Regions from separate parts of the Homo sapiens genome. Here regions 1, 2, 3 and 5 are each reported to be linked to region 4. Evidence: microRNA targets listed by miRTarBase, many of them from high-throughput screens and not tested one by one. Region 4 holds a microRNA gene; each other region holds the end of a gene's coding sequence.

What was found. Region 4 holds the annotated microRNA hsa-miR-4308 (UCCCUGGAGUUUCUUCUU, at 3,010-3,027, opposite strand). A microRNA usually pairs through its seed, bases 2 to 8, with sites in the 3' UTR of a target mRNA and lowers its output. Matches are read on the target gene's strand: a 7mer-m8 pairs with bases 2 to 8, a 7mer-A1 pairs with bases 2 to 7 and ends in A, and an 8mer does both.
Region 1: the mRNA of NFE2L1 is a reported target of hsa-miR-4308. Seed matches in the 3' UTR shown: 7mer-A1 at 2,174-2,180.
Region 2: the mRNA of ZNF585A is a reported target of hsa-miR-4308. Seed matches in the 3' UTR shown: 7mer-A1 at 4,079-4,085.
Region 3: miRTarBase lists ZNF619 as a target of hsa-miR-4308. Seed matches in the 3' UTR shown: 7mer-m8 at 1,026-1,032.
Region 5: miRTarBase lists FBLIM1 as a target of hsa-miR-4308. Seed matches in the 3' UTR shown: 8mer at 2,178-2,185.

What each region holds. Positions count from the first base shown.
Region 1 is chr17:48,059,239-48,063,238 of GRCh38, forward strand. NFE2L1 (NFE2 like bZIP transcription factor 1) reads left to right here. Exons shown (of 6, transcript NM_003204.3): 6 at 1-2,307. The coding sequence ends at 403. Among named protein-coding and RNA genes, the nearest start is that of NFE2L1, 13 kb to the left of the region's middle.
Region 2 is chr19:37,145,691-37,151,960 of GRCh38, forward strand. It overlaps ZNF585A (zinc finger protein 585A), which reads right to left. Exons shown (of 5, transcript NM_001288800.2): 5 at 1-6,270. The coding sequence ends at 5,899. Among named protein-coding and RNA genes, the nearest start is that of ZNF585A, 24 kb to the right of the region's middle.
Region 3 is chr3:40,487,725-40,492,518 of GRCh38, forward strand. ZNF619 (zinc finger protein 619) reads left to right here. Exons shown (of 5, transcript NM_001145093.4): 5 at 1-3,329. The coding sequence ends at 517. Among named protein-coding and RNA genes, the nearest start is that of ZNF619, 13 kb to the left of the region's middle.
Region 4 is chr14:54,875,114-54,881,428 of GRCh38, forward strand. MIR4308 (microRNA 4308) reads right to left here and starts at 3,080; the gene lies at 3,000-3,080. All of the region lies in intron 1 of GCH1 (GTP cyclohydrolase 1), which reads right to left. RefSeq lists enhancers at 6,094-6,143, 6,264-6,315.
Region 5 is chr1:15,782,740-15,789,054 of GRCh38, forward strand. FBLIM1 (filamin binding LIM protein 1) reads left to right here. Exons shown (of 9, transcript NM_017556.4): 9 at 1,809-3,850. The coding sequence ends at 1,922. Among named protein-coding and RNA genes, the nearest start is that of UQCRHL, 22 kb to the right of the region's middle. RefSeq lists enhancers at 3,652-4,416, 4,417-5,181.

The DNA of each region.
Region 1 (4,000 bases), not on the chromosome of region 4:
TGAACTGCTGTCCAAATACCAGTTGAGTGAAGCCCAGCTGAGCCTCATCCGAGACATCCGGCGCCGGGGCAAGAACAAGATGGCGGCGCAGAACTGCCGCAAGCGCAAGCTGGACACCATCCTGAATCTGGAGCGTGATGTGGAGGACCTGCAGCGTGACAAAGCCCGGCTGCTGCGGGAGAAAGTGGAGTTCCTGCGCTCCCTGCGACAGATGAAGCAGAAGGTCCAGAGCCTGTACCAGGAGGTGTTTGGGCGGCTGCGAGATGAGAACGGACGACCCTACTCGCCCAGTCAGTATGCGCTCCAGTACGCCGGGGACGGCAGTGTCCTCCTCATCCCCCGCACGATGGCCGACCAGCAGGCCCGGCGGCAGGAGAGGAAGCCAAAGGACCGGAGAAAGTGAGCCTGGGGAAGAAGGGGGTTTGAAGCCCACCAAGACCGAAACTGGAGAAGGGCTGGACCTGGACCTGGACCTGGACCTACAGCGGGGACTTAAATGCCTTCTTATCCAATATATCTTCTCAGATGGGATGACTGCGGGTCAGTGTACAGGAAGAGGCAGGCACTGGCTGGCTCAGCTCCACTCGGGTGGAGTGGAAGTGGCCAGACCATTTAGACGGACAGGGTCCTCACCCTACCCCTTTCCTGTGAGGCAGGGGTGGTGGTGGAGTTGCTGGAGGTAGAGGAGCTATGTGGAGCAAAGGCCGACAGAGGGGAAGGAATGGACCTGTGAGAGGAAGGGAAGGTGGCAGAAAGTCTCATTTCAGGAAGGAGGGATAGAAGGAAGGAAGGAAGGAACCCCCCCCCCCCCGAAAAAAAAATCAAAGCGGGAAGAAAATCAGAGGGAAGGTTAAGGTTGGCTCTGGCCAGGATTCCAGGCAGCAGGTTGGAGTGACTGGTGGGCCTAGATCACTGGTGTGATAAACCCCAATTTTCACCCCGGGGGGGGTGGGGTACACAGACACAGGGTGGGGGTGGGGAGGGACGGTGTTAACTCTTTCTGCTCCTTGCATTTTGACATCCCTGAAGGGGAGCTCTTGGATATCATTGGCCATGTTTCAATCGAATGGAGCCACTGGGCCCCAACACTGGCTTTGAGATTTAGAGTCAAAGGGTAGAGTGAACAGGAAAGGGTCACGTGGTCCCATGTTGCAACAGCCCCAACATCACGCATGTCATTCACTGCCTTGCCACTCCATCTCCCTCCGTGCTCCAGCCACCCCTGAGCTGAGGCTCCCATTGTCTCCATCAGAGCCTGCATGTGTATGCCGTCCTCCCCTGGTCCGGTGTTTGTGTTCCCCACCCCTCACAGACTGCCTGAGCTCTTCTGTAAGCTGGGGTAGGGTGATGGCAGTGCTCCGGGAACTGGGCCTGCAGCCTTCCTCTTCTGGGACTGCTGTGAGGCAGAGGAATGATGGAGAATCTAGTGTAGCAGCCTCCAGGCAGGATTCAGCACAACACTGGGGAGTCACCCTTCCCTCGGGCCTCTGCCTACCAACAACTGGGCTTATCACTGGGAAAACACAAAAAATTACACAACCCAGCAACAACAAAAGAACTAGTCCTCTTAGAATTTCTTGCGCTTTGATTTTTTTAGGGCTTGTGCCCTGTTTCACTTATAGGGTCTAGAATGCTTGTGTTGAGTAAAAAGGAGATGCCCAATATTCAAAGCTGCTAAATGTTCTCTTTGCCATAAAGACTCCGTGTAACTGTGTGAACACTTGGGATTTTTCTCCTCTGTCCCGAGGTCGTCGTCTGCTTTCTTTTTTGGGTTTCTTTCTAGAAGATTGAGAAGTGCATATGACAGGCTGAGAGCACCTCCCCAAACACACAAGCTCTCAGCCACAGGCAGCTTCTCCACAGCCCCAGCTTCGCACAGGCTCCTGGAGGGCTGCCTGGGGGAGGCAGACATGGGAGTGCCAAGGTGGCCAGATGGTTCCAGGACTACAATGTCTTTATTTTTAACTGTTTGCCACTGCTGCCCTCACCCCTGCCCGGCTCTGGAGTACCGTCTGCCCCAGACAAGTGGGAGTGAAATGGGGGTGGGGGGAAGCACTGATTCCCAGTTAGGGGGTGCCTAACTGAGCAGTAGGGATAGAAGGTGTGAACCTGGGAGTGCTTTTATAAATTATTTTCCTTGTAGATTTTATTTTTAATTTATCTCTGTGACCTGCCAGGGAGAGGGGAGAGAGAGAGAGATGCTGTTGAGCACATGACAAAATAAAATAAAATGGATGATTCATTCTTAAGTGCACTTTTTCCCCACTTTGAATTTAAATTGAGAATAAAGGAAATGGACTCATTGTAGGGAGGACTGGCCATTGCGTGGCTAAGGCAGAGCTCACATGGGAAGATGGGTGGAGAACTGGGGAGGTTGACAGTGGGGAACTTCAAAAGGCAAGTCTTAAATATTGTATTAAACCTTGGGGGCAGGCATTAGACACCATGTACTTCATAGGGTTAGCCAGCTCAATCCTCTCAGGAAGGATTCGGAGTTTTTTTATTCTCATACAGCTAGGATAGGTGGAGGTGTCATTTAACCCAGCTCTTTACCTGTCCACCTGCTACAAACTACATTTTTAAACTCAACTGTGCTGTTATTTTTCTATTGGCCTCACCTGCCAAAGGGGTGCAGAGAATTGGAGTGTAGTTATGATGTTGAAAACCTGAGAAATCCATGGCAGCGACTAACATGTGACAAGCACTACTGTGTTAAGCAGGAGCAGGGCCACTAAAGAGAAGCAGGAGGCCAAGGTTTAGGACACTGGGAAACCTCCCCAGCTGAGGGGGCTAGAATCTGCTTTCCCTCAAACTGCTCAACTACCCGCCCTGTGAAGAGCTGTAATGTGTGAAGGTCTCTGGGATGCTGGAACTTCCACATGCCCATGTTAGGGCAGGTGTTTAGTAGATGCTGGAAGAATGAACACTCACTCAGCAGTCTTTTTATTGGCAGGGTCTTGCTTTGTCTCCCAGGCTGGAGTGCAGTGACGTGATCTCGGCTCACTGCAACTGCCACTGGGCTCAAGCCATCTTCCCACCTCCGCCTCCTGAATAGCTGGGACTACAGGCGCACGCCACCACGCCTAGGTAATTTTTGTAGAGACAAGCTTTCGCTATATTGCCCAGGCTGGTCTCAAACTCCTGGCATCAAGTGATCCGCCTGCCTCAGCCTCCCAAAGTGCTGGGATTATAGGCGTGAGCCATTGCACCTGGCTTCTGTGAGATTATTGGGCAGGGTTTAGGAGTGGAAGCTATGATCCTCTTAATGGAAGCTGTGATCTCAAACTCCTGGATACCACCCTGTAACCTGGTTCAGCTCAGTCCTTTAGTGATACTACTTCAGTAATGTTTACAATTCAGTAGAATTGTAAGAATAATGATGGTTTCTTATGTTTCAGTTTATAAGAGCCTCTCCACAACTCCCCAGTCTCCAGTTGGAAAGGTTTGGTCATATCAAACAAGAACTCTTTCCTAATTCAGAATTGACTAAAGTCTGTAAGCCAGATAAAACCAAGATACGTAAAGGGGTGAAAAAACCAAGACTAAAAATTAGTTTGAGGCCTGGTGCGGTGGCTCACGCCTATAATCCCAGCACTTTGGGAGGCCGAGGCAGATGGATCACCTGAGGTCAGGAGTTCAAACACGAGCCTAACCAACATGGTAAAACCGTCTCTACTAAAAATACAAAAACTAGGCGGGTGTGGTGGCGGGCGCCTGTAATCCCAGCTACTCAGAGACTGAGGCAGGAGAATCGCTTGAACCCGGGAGGCAGAGGTTTCAGTGAGCCAAGAGCGCGCCATTGCACTCCAGCCTGGACAACAAGAGCAAAACTTCCATCTCAAAAAAAAAAAAGGTTTCAAAAACACATACCAATACTTTAAGAAATACAAATTATATATAGAAGGGTAAACTGTGAGAAGTAAAATTAAGTTTTAATATTCTTGTACCCTTCCTAGAAATGTATGTACAGTCATGTGTTAACGGCCAACATATATTCTGA
Region 2 (6,270 bases), not on the chromosome of region 4:
AAATAACACCATAATAAAATCACTAAGGATGTAACCTAATTGTGCTGATTTCACAGAGGGTGGAAAACATCAGCCCAGGGGTGGGACTACTGTGTTTATATAATACAAACACCTGAAGGTGGCAGAAACTAGCAGAGACAGAGGATTTCTTAGCATCAGAATTGATATGTTGTTATTTATGATATCTTAATAATTTAGAGGCATATAATAATGACAAGGATTCTGATATTTGTTATAAAGTATAATTGTGTTGATTATATTTAAAACCATTAATAGAAACAATATAATTATAGAATTAAGTAAAACTGTAAGTGGTATGCTATGGCATGGTGTACGGTATGGTACGGTATGAGGAATGTGGAGTAGAGTGTGGTGGGGAGGTGTAGGATATACCATAAATAGTCACACTGGGTTGGGCGAGGTGGCTCAGGCCTGTAATCCCAATGCTTTGGGTGGCCGAGGTGGGCAAATCGTGAGGTCAGGAGATTGAGACCATCCTGGCCAACATGGTGAAACCCCATCTCTACTAAAAATACAAAAAATTAGCTGGGTGTGGTGGTGGGTGCCTGTAATCGCAGCTACTCGGAGGCTGAGGCAGGAGAATCACTTGAACCCGGGAGGCAGAGGTTGCAGTGAGCCAAGATCACACCACTGCACTCCAGCCTGGCAACAGAGTGAGACTCCATCTCAAAAAAAATAAAAATAAAAAATAGTCACATTGGCACTAGTAGCCCATTTGAGAGCTGAGGGTGGAGGGTGTGATTCATCCTGGCATTATGGGAAGTGTCCATGACAACCTTGGCTTTAAGCTGACTTTGGCCACGGGGTCAATGTCTGCCACACTGCATCACATCCATTATCCAACAAGGTGCCTGAGCCCCAGAACCCTCAGCCCTGCCACATTCCTCTTGCTCCTGGGGTTCTATATTTTCCAGTGGCTGCTCCAGTGGAGGAGGTGGGGCAGGTGACACTGACAATGGGGTGCAGGATAGAAAGTGCTAGGCTAGATGCTGATGGGAGTGGCCCCCTGCCTATGGATCCCCCACTCCTGCCCCTTTCCCCCTCTATGTGACCTGCCACTGTGACCAGGAGGAGGCTAAGTTAGATCTTGTAAACAGTGTGGAATGTATGTAGGTAGGATACTCAGTTTGGTACTGCCCTGACATGGAGTTAGAGCTGGGTGTGCTGGACCATGGTGGGAGGAGGCATTAAATCTTGAATTAGAGGACCCAAACCCACCCCACCAACTTCCCCACACATGTTACCAATCTGTGCGGGGCATCTGGTCAACCTCGATATTATTGCTATTATTCATTCATCCATTTAACAAGCTTGTACTGAGCATCTGCTTTGAGCTGGCACCGTGCTGGGCGCCTGGTATACAGCAGAAACAGGACAGACAAAGTCTGGTTCTCATGAGGCTGATGGTCCAGTGGGGAAGAGGGATGAGAAACCAAAAAAAGGAATATTGAATCAGGTCAGATAGTAATAGTATTTGCAATGCAAATATCATACAAAATAAGGGAGCAGCAAGTGAGCTCTACAGATGTGTTACTTCAATGGCAGGATAAGATGGGGATGGAGGCACTGCAAAGGTGGAAGAGGAAAGCAAGATGCACGGGCACTGGAGAAGCAGAGCACTCTCAGAACAGTCGGTGCAAAGGCCCAAAGCCAGAGAAAAGATCCTTGATGTTAAAACAGCCAGAATTGAGATGCCTGACAAATAAAAATGTTGACTAACTCCAACTGCAGACTCTCTGGCCTCTTTTATTGTAGTTATATCTTTACACTACAAACATTAAATGCAACTACGTGAAAGTAGAAATAACCAAAATATTATGTGAAAGTTTGATATGTAAAATATTAAAATTAGGTAATCATATAAAATAAAACATATACTATAAAACAGGTACTATTATATAAAATACAAACTATTTTATTGTCACAAGGAATATACAGTAATAAATATTACAATATGCTATATAACATACTGTAGACACAATTTTCTATAGTATGTAATGACAGGCACATATAAAATTAAAATATATAAATCTAGTTTTTACACTTATAAATCTTTTATCAAATGTAATTCAAGTTATCACATGGTTTACCTAAAATACAACAGCACTTTTGAGATTCATCCATGTTGTAGTAAGTGTCAATAAATCATTTCTTTATGTCTGAGCAGCCCTCCATAGTATTGGTGTACACAATTTGTTTAATCACTCATCCACTGATGTACATTTGTGTTACTTCCTAATTTGGGCAATTATACAATTGCTGTGAACATCTGAGTATAGGTTTTCATGTAAACAGAATTTTTCTTTCATCTAGGGTAAATACCTAAGTGTGGAGTTGCTGAGTCATATGATAAATGTATGGTTAATAGTATAAGAAGCTGCCAAACTTTTGTGCATAGTGGACAGACCGTTTTACAATCCTACAAGCAATGCATGAAAATTTCCATTGGTCTGTATTCTTGCCAATTTATGGCACGTTTTCATTTTTAGCCATTCTAAAAGCCATTCTATAGTAGTATCTCATTGTGGTTTGATTTACATTTTCCTGATAATTAAAGATGTTGAGCATCTTTTCATCACCTTATTTTCCATTTGTTTTTCATAGAACCATATGGATGAATCTCAGATACATCACATTAAATGAAAGCACTCCGACTCAAAAGGAGATATACATACACGTACAAAACACACACACACACACACACACACACAAGGACTCCACTTATACAATATTATGGAAAAGGCAGAACTATAGAGACGGAAACAGACTGGTGATTGCCAAGGGCTGGGAGTGGGAAAAGGGACTAAAAAGGGATAGGAAAGAAGTTAGGGAAGTGAGGGGCCTGTTCTTCATCTTGATTGTGGTGTTGATTGCATGATTAGATACAACTGTCAAAACTCAGAACTCTACACTAAAAAGTGTGACTATTACTGAATGTAAATTATACCTCAATAAATATAACTTTAAAAATATTTCAGTTATGTCCACACAAAAAGCCTGCACAGATATTTATAACAGCTTTCCTCATAATTGCCAAAAGGAAGCATCCAACAGTCCTTCAGTAGGTGAATAAATAAACATCCAGACGATGGAACATAATTTGGCTCTAAAAAGAAATGCATTATCAAGCCATGAAAAGACATGGAGGAAACTGAAATCCACATTACTAAGTGAAAGAAGTCAATTTGAAAAGGCTACACACTGTATAATTTCAACTATATGATATAAAAGATCAAAGGTAAAACTATGGAGACAGAAAAAATGTTGCCAGGATTAGAGGAGATGAAGGGATGACAGGCAGAACACAGAGGATTTTTAGGGCAGTGAAACTACTCTGTGTATAACAGTGGAAACATGCCATGATCCACTTGCTCCAACAAGCAGAAAGTACAAGACACATTCTATGGTGTTACACCAAGGATGAACCCTAATATAACCTATAGACTTGGGGTGGTAATGAGTGTCAGTGGAGGTTCACCAATTGTAACAAATATACTACTCTGAGAGGAATGCTGATAATGTGGGAGGCTATGCATATGTGGATTAGGGGATATATGGGAAACCTCTGTAATTTCTACCCAATTTTGCTTTGAACCTAAAACTACTCTAAAAAATAAAGCCTTCCGTATATACGGGTATATGCATATACATATACGTAAGTATTATAATATTGTTACAATAAATATATAAGAGAAATAATCAAAAGTCATTTACAATAAATTGTTTCCCTTCATGAGGCTTGGGCATACAGAGGATAGTCAGATGCTTATGTTGACTGATGACTAATATTAACAGGATGCTGTCATTGGGCCCTGCTGGCTTGGATCCCATCCATCATGTGACCCAAAAAAAGTCACTTCATTCTCCCATAATCCCATTTTACAAGTGAGAAAATTGAGGCCCAGAGGAGGTTTCTGGGCAGGCTGAGGGTCCCTAAGTGGATCAGTGTTGGCACCAGAATTTGAACCAACATAGACAGCTTTCACTGTTCTGCTCACACCATACTCATGTAGTAGACAGGAAGCCCAGCTTGTGGTCTCCTGAGATCTCCAGATCATCCCTGGCCCACCCTGGGTCCATCATTCCATTGTGCCTTGGGGGGAACTCAGAGGAAAAGGTCTATGAGGCTGGGACCTCATCCTCATCACCATCTTCCAGGGATCATGACCATGCAAACATGGAGATGCAATCTTGGGGGAAGTACAGTAGCCAAGGGTGACTAAGGAACCGCATGAAGCAATGTGGGAAATTGGGAATCAGCAGACATTGGGTTAACGGGACAATGGGGAGCCAAGAGATACCATCAAAATTTAATGGAGGGGTCAGACACTGTGTTAGTGATTAATGGGCATCAACAGACATTGGGCTAGTTTTTGTTTTTTTTTTTTTTAACTGGGGTCCTAGAAAGAAGGGGACAGAAGAGGCTCCAAAATACAGTTGGGAAATGTGGACATTATGGTTCATTGTAAGTCACCGCCATTGCCTGAGGGGAAGGAAGAAAGTTAACAGCATCCACCGTATTGAGGGCATTCCCACATGCTGTGTTAGGGACAGTTAGATACTGCTAGGTGAGTAACGGGAGATAATTGTTCATCATCGTGAGGGAAAAATCAATAAGGAGGATCACAAGACATCCTGCTAGAGGTGTAATAAAAGTATCAGGAGATAGAAACCATTGTATTGCAGGGGGCACACCACTGTCCCCTATTCTGAGGGTTGTAATAAGTGGTCATCACACAGAATGGAGAGTGGACCTTACTAGACATTGTCACAAGTGGGAAGAGGTAACAGACACCATGCTGGAGTGAGGTGATTGTAAAAGAGGTAATGAGGAGATCTCCAGAAACTGTTTCCGGAATTGATGAAGTGTGACACACATAAGAGTAAGGTAAAACAGGAAAAATGGCCAGGCGTCATGGCCCTTTCCAGCCCTAAACATATGGTTGTGTTGGTTTTCATATAAGTTATTAATCTGTTACATGAAAGTTACATCCTTAAGGAAGCCAGATACTAAGCTTCAAGTCAGTGATGAGTACGAAAAAAAAAAAAAGGCAACTGAGTTGGAAGAACTATGACAGCAGAAGGGAGATTTAAGTTGTCCCAGATGACCATAAAATTCTTACCTCGGAAGCTTTCTTGAAGGTGATGGGAGTTCACAAGACACGGTGCTGGGGGTCAAAACACAAAGTGCTGAGGGCCCGTGAGGCTGAGAGACAGTCATGGTAGATAATGAGGGGGGTGCAAGTCTTGGTAGATGACAGTGGGGACTCAACATACATTCTGAGGTTTACGTCTGTATACATAAAGGTTTTTTCTTTTTTTTTTTGTAGCATCTCTTTCTTGATAGAAATACTGAATGAGGGTTGGATATGACCAACTGTGGTAGATTCGAATGAGAAAGAAAAACACCCAGGAGTCTGTTACACAATGTGTTCCACAACGAACAACTCACATAACTTAGGATTCATCACTATCAAAATAACTACGTATTATGTTGTTTTATCATTCAATTTGTTGGCACTATACCTAATCCACAGTAAACAGGATTATCGTTAACTTAATACGATCTTTCTTAGGAAGAATTTGGTAACAGTATTCTATTGTAGTTTTCATGAGAAGGCTTTTCCTATTCACCAAATTGACTCGGTTCCTTGTCAGTATGAATAATGACCCAAGGTTTACTGGGGATGGTGACAATGTAGGAAGGGTCCCTCGCCTCATTCAGTGCCTTCTCAGAGGCCCTCTCCAGAACAGCCATGTGTGACATTCTGCTGTGGTCATTTCTATTTACAATAATATACATATTTTTCTGCTGCATGCGTGCAACAGTGTACAATCAGACCCAACCCTCAGGGGGGTTTTCTCACACTGTTTCTCTCAAGCGTGGCTGCTCTGATGGACGCTGAACACTGATTTCTGAACGAAGCCTTTCCCACAGATGCCACACTTGTAGGGTTTGTCTCCAGTGTGTGTTGTCTGATGTTTATTCAAATTGGACCTGTCAGTAAAGGCCTTCCCACACTCAGCACACACGTAAGGCTTCTCTCCAGTGTGAATTCGCTGATGCACTTGGAGCTGTGATTTTTTAGTGAAAGACTTCCCACAGTCACTGCACTCATAAGGTTTCTCTCCAGTATGAATTCTGTGATGTGTAATCAACTCTGACTTCTGTCGAAAGGTCTTCCCACATTCAGAACAAATGTAGGGCTTTTCTCCGGTATGAGTTTTCTGGTGCTTACTGAGATTTGA
Region 3 (4,794 bases), not on the chromosome of region 4:
TTGGAAAACTTTCAGCTGTAGCTCCCGCTTCATAGTGCATCAGAGAATCCACAATGGGGAGAAACCCTATGAATGCCAGGAATGTGGGAAGACATTCAGTCAAAAGATCACTCTGGTTCAGCATCAGCGAGTTCACACTGGGGAGAAACCTTATGAGTGTAAGGAGTGCGGGAAAGCCTTCAGATGGAATGCAAGTTTCATCCAGCATCAGAAGTGGCATACTAGGAAGAAACTCATCAATGGAACAGGGCTATCCGCAGTTAAGCCCTACTGTCCCTGCGCCATCCTCTCTCCTCTGCCTCCCCAACATACCTGCTCTGCCCTAGCCCCACCAGGGCCTCCCTTATCTTCTTCACATGCAGTGGTACTTCCTCCCTCTGTGCCTTTCTTCCTGCTGCTTCCCTCATCTGAAAAGGCCAACCCTTCACCTGTCCAAATAGCACATTTTTTTCAGGATCTCGCTTTTCCTGGGAAGTCATCCCTTCAGAGCCCGAATCCTTTGTCTCACTCCCTGTAAGCCCCGTCACGTTCTCAAAATCCTTTGCACCTCAAGTTAGGGATTCCACTGGTCTCCTGATTGTGTCTATTGATATTCCTCTGGTCTTGTCTTGTATAAGTTGTTACTGTTTTCCTAACTTCATTTTAAATTCTCACGCTTAAGGACCATGTTTGATTAGTTTCTTTTATCCCCCGGTAGGAAATGGCAGTACTTATTCTTTATCGTGTCCACATTTGGGCTGTATTATCAGTCTGCATCTCTCTTCTGGGGCTACTGGAGTTGGAAGAGTTTGCAGAACATTTTGGGGTTTAGGGCATATGGCATTATGATTATGATGAGATGGGGCATTATAATTAGAGACTAGGAGAAATGCAAAGCCTATGGGAGAACATAATCAGATAAAGTGTCCAATGATTGCTTTCAAGAGCTTTTTTTTTTTTAGGGGGTGGGGGGTGGTGCCGGAGTTTCACTCTTGTCACCCAGGCTGTTTGCAGTGGTGTGATCTTGGCTCACTGCAACCTCTGCCTCCAGGGTTCAAGTGATTCTCATGCCTCAGCCTCCCGAGTAGCTGGGACCACAGGCATGCACCACCACGCCCCGCTAATTTTGTATTTTTAGTAGAGACAGGGTTTCACCATGTTGGCCAGGCTGGTCTCAAAATCCTGACCTCAGGTGATTCACCTGCCTCAGTCTCCCAAGTGCTGGGATTACAGGCATGAGCCACTGCATCTGGCCTGCTTTCAGGAGTTAAGGAGGGCCATTTGGTGGACCAGGGGCAAGGCTCACTGAAAGAATGTAAGACTTGGAATTTTTTATTACCTTGATAGTATAAAAAATTATGAGGGTCCTTTTATGCAAAAAGAAAATGAAGTGATGAGTTGGCATTGATAGCAATAATGTAAAATTATGTCTTTGAGCTTTATTGGAAGGGGATATGGTTTTTCAATTTGGGTTCCTTCTCTATTTTCATTTTCCTTTTTTTTTTGAGACAGGTTCTTGTTCTGTCATCCAGGCTGGATTGCAGTAGTGCGATCATGGATCACTGCAGTGTGTTGACCTTCCAGGCTCAAGCAATCCTCCCACCTCAGCTTCCCAAGAAGCTGGGAGGTAGTGCAGCCTCCCAGTTTCTCAGAGGGCTGAGGTGGGAGGATTGCTTGAGCCCTGGGGGCATACACCACCACACCCAGCTAATTTTTGTATTTTTTGTAGAGACAGAGTTTTGCCATGTTGCCCAGGCTGGTCTCAAAACTCCTGGACTCAAATGATCCTCCCACTTCAGCCTCCCAAAGTGCTGGGATTACAGGCTTGAGCCACCATGTCCAGCCTCTATTCCTTTTCATATCTGTTGAATTTCAGTACCCACTCATATATGTAGGTACAAAAAGTGACTTGGACTTGTACCCTTTAGGGTAGATGCCTGAGTATAGTAATCTCTAAAGCTGTACATGGATGGAACTTGTTGGCATCACACTGGTGAGCACCAGAGGCAAAGAAGAGAAACCTGACCATGACTTGCTGTAGTTTCTCAGAAGTGAGTCCATTCCTGATGAGTTACTATGCAGGCCCTTGGATATGTCCTCACACCTACTCCAGATTTCCCTATGATTAAATCTGAATTTTATTGGTGGCACTTTTAAATTAGTTTTATAAAGAACTGTTTTGATGACACCAAGAAATGTTTTCAGTGTGCAGATTGCTATTGTTTGAATATCCCCAGCAAAATTCTTGTTGAAACTTAATCCCCATTGTAACAGTACTGGGTGGGGGGTCTTTAAGAGGTGATCAGGATTAGCCAAGTTCATCAGGGTGGAGCCTCCATGATGGGACTGGTGGCTTTATGAGGAGAGGAAGAGCAACTGGAACTGGGACACATGCTTGCTCTGTCTTGCCTTTTGATGCCTCCTGCCATGTCATGATGCAGCAAGTAAGCCCTTACCAGATGCCTGCACCTTTATATTGGACTTCTTAGCCTTCAGAACTGTGAACTAAATAAACCTCTATTCTGTATAAATTACCCAGTCTATGGTATTCAGTTAGAGCCACACAAAATGTAACAAGACAGAATATTGATAGCCATAAGTAGGTTTGCTGCTCTGACATTTACATAAAAATGTAGAAGTGGCTTTGGAACTGAGTAATGGGTAGAGGCTTGAAAAATCTGGAAGATCAGGTCAGACAAAGCCTGTATTATCTAATGGAGCATTAAGGGTGATTTTGGCCAAGGCTTAGAAGAGAAGACTAGGGAAAGTCTGAACCTTCTTAGAGATTACAGGAGGTCCTTGAACAACTTGGGTTTCAACTGTGTGGGTCCACTTATGGACTTTCTTCTGCCTCTGTCACCCCTGAGATGGCAAGACCAGTCTCCCTCCTCTCCCCTTCTCAGCCTGCTTAACAAAATGACAAGGATACAGACCTTTATGATGATCCATATAATATAGTGAATTATATTTACTAAATATAATTTCTCTTATGATTTTCTTAATATTTTCTCTAGCTTTATTATAAGAATATAGTGTCTAATATGTATAACATAAAAAATATGTGTTAATCGACTGTTTCAGTAAGGCTCTGGTCAACAGTAGACTATTAGTAGTTACATTTTTGGGGAGTTAAAAGTTATACATGGCATGGGGGTTGGTGCCCATATGATGGGACTGATGGCTTTATAAGAAGAGGAAGGGAGACCTGAGCTGACATGCATGCTCTTGCCATCTTGCCATGTGATGCTTTCCATCATGTTATGACACAGCAAGAAGGCCAGATACGGCCCCTCCACAGTTCCCAGCCCTCGGAACCATGAGCTAAATAAACTTCTTTTCTTTATAAATTACCCAATCTGTGATATTCTGTTATAGTAACAGAAAACAGACTGACACTGATCTTACCAGACATTATGATCTCACTGGTTTGGCCTACTGCCTAGAGACTGACCCTTCTCAGAATCACTGCTTCAGGGCAGTATAACAACATGCAAAGGTTTATTTATTTATTTATTATTTTTTGAGACGAAGTTTCACTCTTGTTGCCCAGGCTGGAGTGCAATGGCGCGATCTTGGCTCACCACAACCTTTGCCTCCCAGGTTCAAGTAATTCTCCTGCCTCAGCCTCCCGAGTAGCTGGGACTACAGGCATGCGCCACCATGCCTGGCTAATTTTGTATTTTTAGTAGAGATGGGGTTTCTCCATGTTGGTCAGGCTGGTCTCAAACTCCTGACGTCAGGTAAGCTGCCCGCCTCAGCCTCCCAAAGTGCTGGGATTACAGGCATGAGCCACCGCGCCCGGCCACAAAGGTTTTTTAAAAAAACCTTTGTTTTTTAAAAAACTACATTTTTAAAAAAACCTTTGTGGCCGGGCGCGGTGGCTCATGCCTGTAATCCCAGCACTTAATGTAAAAAAACAAACTGTGAAAAATATTTCAGAGACGTTTAACCTGAGCCAATGTGAAGTGACCGTGGCCTGGAGAAAACACAAACCCAGGAAACCTTGAGTAAGTAGTCCTGAGGCAGTCAGAATGTAACTCTGTTTTATGCATTTCAGGGAAGCAGAAGCTACACAAAAAGCCATCAATCAATACATGGAGGTTATACATTGGTTTGGTCCCAAAAGGCAAGATATCTTGAAGCAGAGGAATACAGGTCATAGGTGGGTTCAGAGAGTCTTTTTTTTCTTTTTTTGAGACAGAGTCTTGCTTTGTTGCCCAGGCTGGAATGCAGTGGTGCAATTGAGTTGAGACGGCGTTTCACCATGTTGGCCGGGCCTGTCTTGAACTCCCGAACTCAAGTGATCCACCCGCCCCAGCCTCCCAAAGTGCTGGGATTACAGGCGTGTGCTAAGATTACATGCGTGAGCCACCGTGCGGGGCCAGAGATTATTTAATTTGTAATTGTTTAGAAGAACAAAGTGTGGTCTAAGAACTTGGAGTTACCAGAAAGGAATGTTTAAGTTAAGGAAGTTTGTAGCCAGGTGTGGTGGCTCACACCTGTAATCCCAATACTTTGGGAGGCCAAGGTAGGAGTATCACTTGAAATCAGGAGTTCAAGACCAGCCTGGGCAACATAGGAAAACTGTGTTTCTACTAAAAATAATTTTTTAAAATTTAATTTAATTTAAAAAAGGATAATGTTACGCATCATATGATGCTATGCTAGAGTTGAGTTGTGAGACCAAGCCACTATATATATATTTTATAAAATATATATAATATAGGCTGGGCGCAGTGGCTCATGCCTGTAATCCCAGCACTTTGGGAGGCCGAGGTGGGTGGATCACCTGAGTTTAGTAGTTCGAGACCAGCC
Region 4 (6,315 bases):
CCAAAACAGAGATATAGACCAATGGAACAGAACACAGCCCTCAGAAGTAATGCCGCATATCTACAACCATCCGATCTTTGACAAACCTGACAAAAACAAGAAATGGGGAAAGGAATCCCTGTTTAATAAATGGTGCTGGAAAAGCTGGCCAGCCATATGTAGAAAGCTGAAACTGGATCCCTTCCTTACACCTTATACAAAAATTAATTCAAGATGGATTAAACACTTAAACGTTAGACCTAAAACCATAAAAACCCTAGAAGAAAACCTAGGCAATACCATTCAGGACATAGGCATGGGCAAGGACTTCATGTCTAAAACACCAAAAGTGATGGCAACAAAAGCCAAAATTGACAAAAGGGATCTAATTAAACTAAAGAGCTTCTGCACAGCAAAGGAAACTACCATCAGGGTGAACAGGCAACCTACAGAATGGGAGAAAATTTTTGCAATCTACTCATCTGACAAAGGGCTAATATCCAGAATCTACAATGAACTCAAACAAATTTACAAGAAAAAAACAAACAACCCCATCAAAAAGTGGGTGAAGGATATGAACAGACACTTCTCAAGGATATGAACAGACACTTCTCAAAAGAAGACCTTTATGCAGCCAAAAGACACATGAAAAAATGCTCATCATCACTGGCCATCAGAGAAATGCAAATCAAAACCACAATGAGATACCATCTTACACCAGTTAGAATGGCGATCATTAAAAAGTCAAGAAACAACAGGTGCTGGAGAGAATGTGGAGAAACAGGAACACTTTTACACTGTTAGTGGGACTGTAAACTAGTTCAACCATTGTGGAAGTCAGTGTGGCGATTCCTCAGGGATCTAGAACTAGAAATACCATTTGACCCAGCCATCCCATTATTGGGTATATACCCAAAGGATTATAAAACATGCTACTATAAAGACACATGCACACGTATGTTTACCGTGGCACTATTCACAATAGCAAAGACTTGGAAGCAACCCAAATGTCCAACAATGATAGATTGGATTAAGAAAATGTGGCACATATACACCACAGAATACTATGCAGCCATAAAAAATGATGAGTTCATGTCCTTTGTAGAGACATGGATGAAGCTGGAAGCCATCATTCTCAGCAAACTATTGCAAGGACAAAAAGCACCGCATGTTCTCACTCATAGGTGGGAATTGAACAATGAGAACACTTGGACACAGGAAGGGGAACATCACACACCGGGGCCTGTTGTGGGGTGCGGGGAGAGGGGAGGGATAGCATTAGGAGATATACCTAATGTTAAATGACGAGTTAATGGGTGCAGCACACCAACATGGCACATGTATACATATGTAACAAACCTGCACATTGTGCACATGTACCCTAAAACTTAAAGTATAATAATAAAAAAAAAATTATAAAGTACTGCATGGTGATATGTGCCTATAGTCCTAGCTATTCAGGCGGCTGAAGCAGGAGGATCCCTTGAACCCAGGATAGGAGTTTGAGGCTGCAGTGAGCTATGATTACACCACTGCATTCCAGCCTGGGTGACAGAACAAGTCCCTGTCTCTAAAAATCATAATAATAATAATAATTTTTAAAATTGTAGTATAGTATGTAGCCTTTTGTGTAATGAAAGTGGAAGGAGGAGCTATGAACATATGACATATACATATGAATGTATATGCTTATCTGCAAAAAGAAACACTGGAAGGATAAATTCAGAAGCTAGTAAAAATGATTACCTGCAAAGCAGTAAGAGAAGAGACAGAAGGGATATGGATGAAAGGGAAGCATCTTTGAATATAATTTGTTACACAGTTTTGACCTTGGAATCATGTAAATGTTTTACATACTCAAAATTAAATCAAAGAGAAAAAAAATCTAGTGATCCTCATACAGCTAAATGCTTCATGTGATAATGGAACACTGATATGTTGCCTATGCCCCATTTTATTAAAATGAACCAGACTATAACCTTGACCTAGCCAAATCATTTTTCTTCAGTAATAAAGTTTCCCTGCTATATTTACTTATGTTTTGCTCCAACATATCTAAAAGCTACCATCTGTAGGTAATAAGAACAGAACACTATCACATATTGTTTTAATTTCCTGCCTGTTATCAGCAGCAAGAAGGTAACCCTGGAAACAGGGATTTATGGCATTCTGTTTCCTACGGTTGGTCACAACCACAAACAAAATGAAAGCAGCCTCCACAAGTTAAAGGTTTGTCTACAACAACACCACACAATGTCAGTTTTCAGGTATACCTTTCTCATGTCATTCATAATTAAGCAATGTCAACAAATAACACTGCTGGGTAACATCCCTCAAGTATTTAGTCTGCCAGACCCTTTTCTGAAAGTATAGTAAGACAGGCCCACAATACAAGCCCAAGTGCTTTTTTTTTTCTCTCGAGACAGGGTCTCCCTCTGTTGCCCAGGCTGGAATGCAGCGGCACAATCTCAGCTCACTGCAACCTCCACCTCCTAGGCTCAGGTGATCCTCCCACCTCAGCCTCCTGAGTAGCTGGGATTACAGGCGCAAGCCACCATGCCTGGCTAATTTTTGTATTTTTTTGTAGAGATGGGGTTTCGTCATGTTGCCCAGGCTGGTCTCAAATTCCTGAGCTCAAGGGATCTGCCTGTCTTGGCCTCCCAAAGTGCTGTGATTACAGGCATGAGCCACCATGCCTGGCCCCCAAGTGCTTATTTAAGCATACTTCGAAACAGGGGTTCCCAGACTCCCGCTGTGGGCCTGTTAAGACACAAATCTCTAGGCCCCACCCCTAGGGCTTCTGTTTCAGGTGATCTGAGCAGACCTGAGAATTTGCATTTCTAACAAGTTCCCAGAAGATCCTGAAGCTCCCGGTCTGAGAACCAGAGTGCCCCTGGTTTGAACTATTTCATGTTTTGTGCTGCTACACAGAAACTTCATCTCTTCAAAATGCTCCTACTCAAATATATAGGTAAATATTTAAGGACAAACAGACCTGTTTCTGCTGTGGAGAAAGTGAGGGAAAAAGGTAAGAAGAAACTCCAGGGAAAGATTTCCTCAAAAGGAAATTTCTGTCCAATGGAGTTCCCTCTGAACCCATAGTATAGGAATTAGTGCCGTCTGGAGTATCTGGTGATCAGCACCAACAACTCCAGCTCTCTGAGGAAGCCGGACACCTGACGCATCTCCCTGGAAGGACAGAGTTAAAAGACAGTGGAAGATGACTTGGAACATCTGAGTGAGCATCCATCCTAAAGGATAGGAAAGAGCTAATGGAGTCTGCCTACTGGTTTTAAAATTAAGAGAAGAGACAGAGAGAAGTGCCTAGGGCATCACACCTCTGCTTTTGGCTGGAATTAAATCAACTCAAGGTGCTAACAAAGATAAGCCTATCCTGATTTGGTGGAGAATGGTCCAGACCCTCATAGTTCCATCTAATATCAGAGCTACCTCCACCAGCATACAGCGCTTATCTCATCATGCCTCGTAGTACCATGGTTATTTGTGCCCACGTCCCACAGACACACTGGGCTATAAGTTTCTGAGTTAAGCATTATATCTGAAGGCTTTGGAGCTTCTACACACTTCCCTGTAACACCATGCACAAAGCTGGAGTTAAACATAGATCTTCTGTGTTTATTCAATTAATATGTCTGTCTTTACTCTATGATTCACTTTTTTTTCTTTTTGAGACAAGGTCTCGTCCTGTCACCCAGGCTGGAGTGCAGCAGTGCAATCACCACTCATTGTAGCCTCCATCTCCCAGACTCAAGCAATCCTCCCACCTTGGCCTCCCCAGTAGCTGGGACTAGAGGTATGCCACCATATCCAGTTAATTTTTTATTTTTTTGTAGAGACAGAGTCTCATTATGTTGCCCAGGCTGATCTTGAACTCCTGGGCTCAAGCTCCTCCTACCTCAGCCTCCCAAAGTGCTCGAATTACAGGTGTGAGCCACCACGCTGGACCAATTCACTTCCTTAAAATACATTTTTAAATGAAGGGACTCCAAAGAAATTCATGCAGCCAAGGGAACATAAGAATTTTCAGCTGGGCACAGTGGTTCACGCCTGTAATCCCAGCACTTTGGGAGGCCAAGGCAGGTGGATCAATTGAGGTCAGGAGTTCAAAACCAGCCTGGCCAACATAGTGAAAACCCATCTCTTCTAAAAATACAAAAATTAGCCGGATGTGGTGCCATGCACCCGTAGTCCCAGCTACTTGGGAGGCTGAGGCACGAGAATCACTTGAACCTGGGAGGCGAAGGTTGCAGTGACTTCAGATCACACCACTGCACTCCAGCCTGGGCAACAGAGCAAGTCCCTGTCTCAAAAAAAAAAAAAAAAAAAAAAAAAAAATCACTGCCATCTTGTTGGTAATAGCAAAAATAGAGAAGAGTGAATCAGAAGAACAATTACACAGTTTGGGTAAACTCACAATAAAATATGACCCAGCAATGAAAGTCAGTAAATTTGGGCTGCATTTATAAATCCTTGAAAGGATATTCAGTGTAAAAAGCGTGTAGCAGAAGGATATGTAGAGTATGAGCCATTTAAATTAAGTAAAAACAATGTTACATGTTGTTTGTAAACATATACAGAAAATGAAAGTATAAAAATAGACATGAGGCCGGTCGCAGTGGCTCACGCCTGTAATCCCAGCACGTTCGGAGGCCGATGAGGGCAGGAGTACAAGACCAGCCTGGCTAACATGGTGAAACCCCATCTCTACTAAAAATACAAAAATTAGCTGGGTGTGGTGGCACATGCCTGTAATCCCAGGTACTCAGGAGGCTGAGGCAGGAGAATCGTTTGATTCTGGGAGGCGGAGGTTGCCGTGAGCCAACATTGCACCACAGCACTCCAGCCTGGGTGACAGAGTAAGGCTCTGTCTCAAAAAAAAAAAAAAAAAAAAAAAAAGACATGAAAGCAATCCCAGCTACTCAGGAGTCTGAGACAGAAGAACTGCTTGAACCCGGAGGCGGAGGTTGCAGTGAGCCAAGATCATGCCACTGCACTCCAGTCTGGGCAACAGAGCAAGACTCCATCTCAAAAAAAAAAAGAAAGTTAGGGACCAAATTCAGTATAGTGGTTACCTCTGTAGTGAGATGATAACTGGATCAGGAAGTGATAACTAGGAAGTTTAAACTATCTGTATTTTTTAAAAGCAATTATAGCAAAATACTAAGATTTGTCAAAACCCAATGTATTTTGATTAAACTTGTTCATACAGTCTTGTATATGTGAGAAATTTCATTAATAATATATTATAAAATATATATTTTATATATAATATAATATATATTATATAATACATAATATATAAAATATATATATACTCCATATATATATATACTCCATATAAATATATACTCCATATATATATATACACTCCATATATATATATACTCCATATATATATATACTCCATATATATATATATACTCCATATATATATATACTCCATATATATATACTCCATATATATATACTCCATATATATATACTCCATATATATATATACTCCATATATATATACTCCATATATATATACTCCATATATATATACTCCATATATATATATACTCCATATATATATACTCATATATATATACTCCATATATATATACTCATATATATATATATACTCCATATATATATACTCCATATATATATATATACTCCATATATATATATACTCCATATATATATATATACTCCATATATATATATATATACTCCATATATATATATACTCCATATATATATACTCCATAATATATGGAGTGTAATGCTGCAATCTCGGCTTACCGCAACCTCCACCTCCCAGCTTCAAGCGATTCTCCTGCCTCAGCCTCCCGAGTAGCTGGGATTACAGGTATGTGCCACCATGCCTGGCTAATTTTTGTATTTTTAGTAGAGACAGGGTTTCTCCATGTTGGTCAGGCTGGTCTTGAACTCCCAGCCTCAGGTGATCCGCCCTCCTCAGCCTCTCAAAGTGCTGGGATTACAGGTGTGAACCACCGCGCCAGGCCAATAAAAATATTTTTTTAAATTAAGGTCTTCATACACATGCTGGCATTTGTTTTTTCTATAAAAATAAAAAAATTTTAAAAAGAAACAAACATTAAAAAAACAGGTTACCTTTGCATGGAGGGGCTATAGGAGGAGGGCAAGGAGGAGTACACAGGAAGACCCAGCCAGCTTCACGCAGTGCTGCAAACTCTTTCAAAATCCTCCCTAAATCACATCCTGCAACTCAAAGTCTTCTGCCCTGAAGATGGCATTAAGATGTTTTGCTTTCTACCACCTGTTTGAAAAATTTGTCCTACAAGTAAG
Region 5 (6,315 bases), not on the chromosome of region 4:
GATTGCAGACCCTGGTCCCTACTGCATAAGGAGGGCCACCTGTGACCCCAAAGTAGTCCCTATAGGGACTCTTTTTTTTTTTTTTTTGAGACGGAGTCTTGCCCTGTCTCCCAGGCTGGAGTGCAGTGGCGCGATCTCAGCAACCTCCTCCCGGGTTCAAACAATTCTGTCTCAGCCTCATGAGTAGCTGGGATTACAGGCACCCACCACCACGCCCGGCTAATTTTTATATTTTTAGTAGAGACGGGGTTTCACCATGTTGGCCAGGCTGGTCGCAAACTCCTGACCTCATGATCCGCCCGCCTCAGCCTCCCAAAGTGCTGGGCTTACAGGCGTGAGCCACTGCGCCTGGCCCCCTATAAGGACTCTTTTGTGGGATCAGTGCAGCTTCCAAAGGGTGCCCAGAACCAAGTCTCTGCGCGCAAATTGTCCCCCCTGTTATTCTCTAGCATGTGCCCAGGTGAGGTTTCTGGGGCAGAACAGTGACGTTGGTAGAATTTGGGCCCCGAGTCCCTGTGTTCCTCATTCTGAAATCCTTTGGTGATTTGAAAAATAGAAAATATTAATGTTTGTGCTGGTGTTGAAGCTGTGTGGGCTGTGGAGTCACAGAAAGGCCCCTGGAGCCAGATCCTGGAGACCCAGTCTGGTCCCAGCTCCAGAACCAGCTGTGTGACCTGGGGCAGAGCCCACTCCTCCCTGGACCTTGGTATCCCACCTGTGAAATGAAGGGACTGGACTAGATTCAGGCACTCATCAGCAGATACCCATGGCCTGTGCTGGGATGGGGACTTGGCCTTAAACAGGGTTCCTGTCTCGTAGAACTTACGTTCTTTTTTTTTTTTTTTTTTTTTTTTGAGATGGAGTCTCGCTCTGTCACCCGGGCTGGAGTGTAGTGGCACGATCTCGGCTCACTGCAAGCTCTGCCTCCCGGGTTCACGCCATTCTCCTGCCTCCTGCCTCAGCCTCCCACATAGCTGGGAGTACAGGCGCCCGCCACCACGCCCGGCTAGTTTTTTGTATTTTTAGTAGAGATGGGGTTTCACCGTGTTAGCCAGGATGGTCTCTATCTCCTGACCCTGTGATCCGCCCGCCTCAGCCTCCCAAAGTGCTGGGATTATAGGCGTGAACCACCGCGCCCGCCCAGAATTTATGTTCTAAAGGGGTTATTGAAGCCGGGCGCACTGGCTCACACCTGTAATCCCAGCATGGGAAGCCAAGGTGGGCGGATCACTTGAGGTCAGGAGATCGAGACCAGCCTGACCAACATGGCAAAACCCTGTCTACTAAAAATACAAAAATTAGCTGGGTGTGGTGGCACACGCCTGTAATCCCAGCTACCTGGGAGGCAGGAGAATCGCTTGAACCCGGGAAGCAGAGGTTGCAGTGAGCCAAGATCGTGCCACTGCACTCCAGCCTGGGCGACAGAGCAAGACTGTCTCAAAATAAATAAATGATAAAAACAAATTTTAAAAAATAATAAAGGAGCTATTAAGACTCTTCTAGCCCCAACTTTCCCTGAACCCTCAGGGGACTTCCCCAGGTGTCCTTAGTTCTCCTGACGGTGAATGTCTGTCCTCACCGGCGCCTCCACGTGGATTAAAGCCTCCATGTGTGTCTGTGTCTCATCTTCCCTTATGGAGACCTGGCCCGGGTGTTGGGAGGGCAGCAGTGAGCAGCCTCCTTCCTCCCACTTAGGAAGGGCATCCACTCATGCAGTTGGTTTATTCGGCAGATGCCAAGTGAGTCCCTCCCCTGTGCAGGCAGCGCCCAGGCCCAGGGCGGGTCAGCATGTGTCTTTGTCTCCCCAGGACTGCAGGATCCTCCTGTCTGTCGAGCCCACGGACCAAGGCTGCTACCCCCTGAACAACCATCTCTTCTGCAAGCCATGCCATGTGAAGCGGAGTGCTGCGGGGTGCTGCTGAGAGTGCCCGCTGGGCAGTGAACAGACCACTAGCCCCGGCTGGGGCCCTTCCCTGACTTGGTTTCCCTTCCTAACCTGCTCTTGCACACTTTCCTTCTGAGCCTCCATGGAGACCAGCCTGCAAGCCGGCCCAGCCTGTCCAGGATACAGTGGGGCTGAGCACCCCCAGGCCTTCCACTCCTCTACCCTCTGGGCACCAGAAGGCTCCTGGACCATGAGCTTCACCCCCAGAATTCCCTGCTGACCCTGCCCCACTTCCAGGGAAAAGCTGGGGGAGGTTGGACCCCTCTCACTGACTAGCTGTCTGGTAGGGGTGCTAGGACCAGCCTCGCCTGTGGGGTTGAGCTGTTTGAGGACAAACTCCAAGGTCCCTTAAAAAGTGCCTTTTAGAGGCTGGGCATGGTGGCTCACGCTTGTAATCCCAGCACTTTGGGAGGCCAAGGTGGGTGGATCACCTGAGGTCAGGAGTTCAAGACCAGCCTGGCCAACATGGTGAAACCCTGTCTCTACTAAAAATACAAAAATTAGCCAGGCATGGTAGCAGGTGCCTGTAATCCCAGCTACTGGGGAAAGCTGAGGCAGGAGAATTGCTTCAATCTGGAAGGCAGAGGTTGCAGTGAGATTGCACCATTGCATTCCAGCCTGGGCAACAAGAGGGAAACTCCGTCTCAAAAAAAAAAAAGTGCCTTTTAGGCCGGATGTGGTGGCTCATGCCTGTAATCCCAGCACTTTGGGAGGCCAAGGCAGGCAGATCACTTGAGGTCAGGAGTTTGAGACCAGCCTGGCCAACACGGCAAAACCCCGTTTCTACTAAAAATACAAAAATTAGCTGGGTGTGGTGGCGTGCGCCTGTAATCCCAGCTACTCAGGAGGCTGAGGCAGGAGCATTGCTTGAACCCGGGAGGCAGAGGTTGCAGTGAGCTGAGATGGCACCACTGCACTCCAGCCTGGGAGACACAGCGAGACTCTGTCTCCAAAAAAAAAAGTGCTTTTTGAAAATGTTGAGGTTGAAATGATGGGAACCAACATTCTTTGGATTTAGTGGGGAGCATAATAGCAAACACCCCCTTGGTTCGCACATGTACAGGAATGGGACCCAGTTGGGGCACAGCCATGGACTTCCCCGCCCTGGAATGTGTGGTGCAAAGTGGGGCCAGGGCCCAGACCCAAGAGGAGAGGGTGGTCCGCAGACACCCCGGGATGTCAGCATCCCCCGACCTGCCTTCTGGCGGCACCTCCCGGGTGCTGTGTTGAGTCAGCAGGCATGGGGTGAGAGCCTGGTATATGCTGGGAACAGGGTGCAGGGGCCAAGCGTTCCTCCTTCAGCCTTGACTTGGGCCATGCACCCCCTCTCCCCCAAACACAAACAAGCACTTCTCCAGTATGGTGCCAGGACAGGTGTCCCTTCAGTCCTCTGGTTATGACCTCAAGTCCTACTTGGGCCCTGCAGCCCAGCCTGTGTTGTAACCTCTGCGTCCTCAAGACCACACCTGGAAGATTCTTCTTCCCTTTGAAGGAGAATCATCATTGTTGCTTTATCACTTCTAAGACATTTTGTACGGCACGGACAAGTTAAACAGAATGTGCTTCCCTCCCTGGGGTCTCACACGCTCCCACGAGAATGCCACAGGGGCCGTGCACTGGGCAGGCTTCTCTGTAGAACCCCAGGGGCTTCGGCCCAGACCACAGCGTCTTGCCCTGAGCCTAGAGCAGGGAGTCCCGAACTTCTGCATTCACAGACCACCTCCACAATTGTTATAACCAAAGGCCTCCTGTTCTGTTATTTCACTTAAATCAACATGCTATTTTGTTTTCACTCACTTCTGACTTTAGCCTCGTGCTGAGCCGTGTATCCATGCAGTCATGTTCACGTGCTAGTTACGTTTTTCTTCTTACACATGAAAATAAATGCATAAGTGTTAGAAGCTCTTCCATGTTGTGTGTAGGCTCTCACACAGGTAAACGCTGGCGTTTGGTAGTAGCCCTGGGCATCTGCTCGCTGTGGCGGGAGTGTCCGAAGAGTGCTGGGGCTCAGCTCAGCAGATGGAGGGGCTCATTTCCTGCCTCATGCCCAGCACTGGGGCCGGCCAACTCACTGGGTGTGCTTCTCCTGGACACAGGCCACCACTGATGGGGTTGGCTGCAGGAGCCTCAGTAGGGCTGCCAAATGCTTTAAGAATTAACACTCATGCCGGGCGTGGTGGCCCATGCCTGTGATCCCAGCACTTTGGGAAGCTGAGGTGGGCGGGTCACTTGAGGCCAGGAGTTTCAGACCAGCCTGGCCAACATGGTGAAACACCGCCTCTACTAAAAATACAAAAATTAGCTGGGCATGGTGGTGCTTGCCTCTAGGCCCAGCTACTCGTGAGGCTGAGGTAGGAGAATCTCGAACCTGGGAGGCAGAGGTTGCAGTGAGCTGAGATCACAACACCGCACTCCAGCCTGGGTGATAGACTGATTCAAAAAAATAAGAATCAACAGTCAGGCTGGGTGCAGTGCCAGCACTTTGGGAGGCCGAGGTGGGTGGATGGCTTGAGCTCAGGAGTTTGAGACCAGCCGTGTCAACATGGCGAAACCCCGTCTCTATGAAAAATGAGCTGGGCACGGTGGTGTGCACCTATAGTCCCAGCTACCTGGGAGGCTGAGGTAAGAGGATCACCTGAGCCCAGGAGGTCGAGGCTGCAGTGAGCCGTGATTGTGTCACTGCGCTCCAGCCTGGGTGACAGAATGATACCCTGTCTCAAAAATAAAAAAAAAACACCCCCAGGGCGTGCTCCCTGCACATAACTAGGCTGCTCTCCCTTTTCAAGCTTGCACACTGACCCCTGGGCTCACTTGGTGAGCACAGGCCCAGAAAGAGTTGGCCTGAAAGAGCACTGGCTTGGTGACAGGCCACCCAGATCTCAGACCTATCTCTGTACTCAATAGCGTGGACAAGTTAGTAACCCTCAGCCTTGATGTTCTCATCTGGAGCAGTTTAAAACATTTTATTTATTGGCTGAGCGCGATGGCTCACACCTGTAATCCCAGCACTTTGGGAGGCCGAGGCAGGCAGATCACAAGGTCAGGAGTTCAAGACCAGCCTGGTCAACATGGTGAAACCCCATCTCTACTAAAAATACAAAAATTAGCCAGGCGATGTGGCAGGCGCCTGTTATCCCAGCTACTTGGGAGGCTGAGATAGGAGAATCGGTTGAACCTGGGCGGCAGAGCCTGCAGTGAGCTGAGATTGCGCCACTGCACTCCAGCCTAGGTGATAGAGTAAGACTCCATCTCAAAAAAAAAAAAAAAAAAAAAAAAAAAATATATATATATATATATATATATAAAATGTATTATAAAAATAGAGGCCGGGCGTGGTGGCTCATGCCTGTAATTTTAACACTTTGGGAGGCCAAGGCAGGCAGATCACGAGGTCAAGAGATCAAGACCATCCTGGCCAACATGGTGAAACCCCGACTCTATTAAAAATACAAAAAAATTAGCTGGGTGTGTTGGTGCGCACCTGTAATCCCAGGTACTCAGGAGGCTGAGGCAAGAGAATTGCTTAAACCTGAGAGGCGGAGGTTGCAGTGAGCCGAGATTGCGCCATAGCATTCCAGCCTGGTGACAGAGCGAGACTCCGTCTCAAAAAAAAAAAAAAAAGAGGCCAGGCACGGTGGCACATGCCTGTAATCCCAGCACTTTGGGAGGCCAAGGCGGGTAGATAGCCTGAGGTCAGGAGTTCGTGACCAGCCTGACTAACATGATGAAACCCCATCTCTACTAAATACAAAAAAGTTAGCCGGGCCTGGTGGCACATGCCTGTAATATGAGCTACTTGATAGGCTGGGACAGGAGAATCCCTTGTACTTGGGAGGTGGAGGTTGCAGTGAGCTGAGATCGCGCCATTGCACTCTAGCCTGGGCAACAAGAGCAAAACTCCATCTCAAAATAAATAAATAAATAAATAGAGATGGAGTCCCACTATGTTGCTCAGGCTGGTCTCAAACTCCTGGGCTCAAGCAATCCTCCCACCTTGGCCTCCCAAATAGCTGGGATTACAGGCGTGAGTCACCATGCCCAGCCAAGTTGGAACAGTTCTAATCTATCATGGAGAGTTGCTGTGAGAGAAAGGGAAGTATTAGGCTGAGAGATTTCAGCTTAGTTCATGAGTCACTGGCTTCATCTTGTGAACCCTGAAATTCTCTAGCCGTCACTCCCTCCATGGTCACGTTGATGCCTGTCAATCAGACCACCAGGAACACGCCTGCAGTCAACAAATTTGGGTTTATTATGCTTGCTGTGGCAAGGGAGGCCACACAGCACGGGGAAGCCAGGGCATCTCCAAAAGCAGTGTTAGTGCTGGTATCGGATTTGGAGAAAGATTTAAGGAAGTGTGGGTTTGCTCTGGA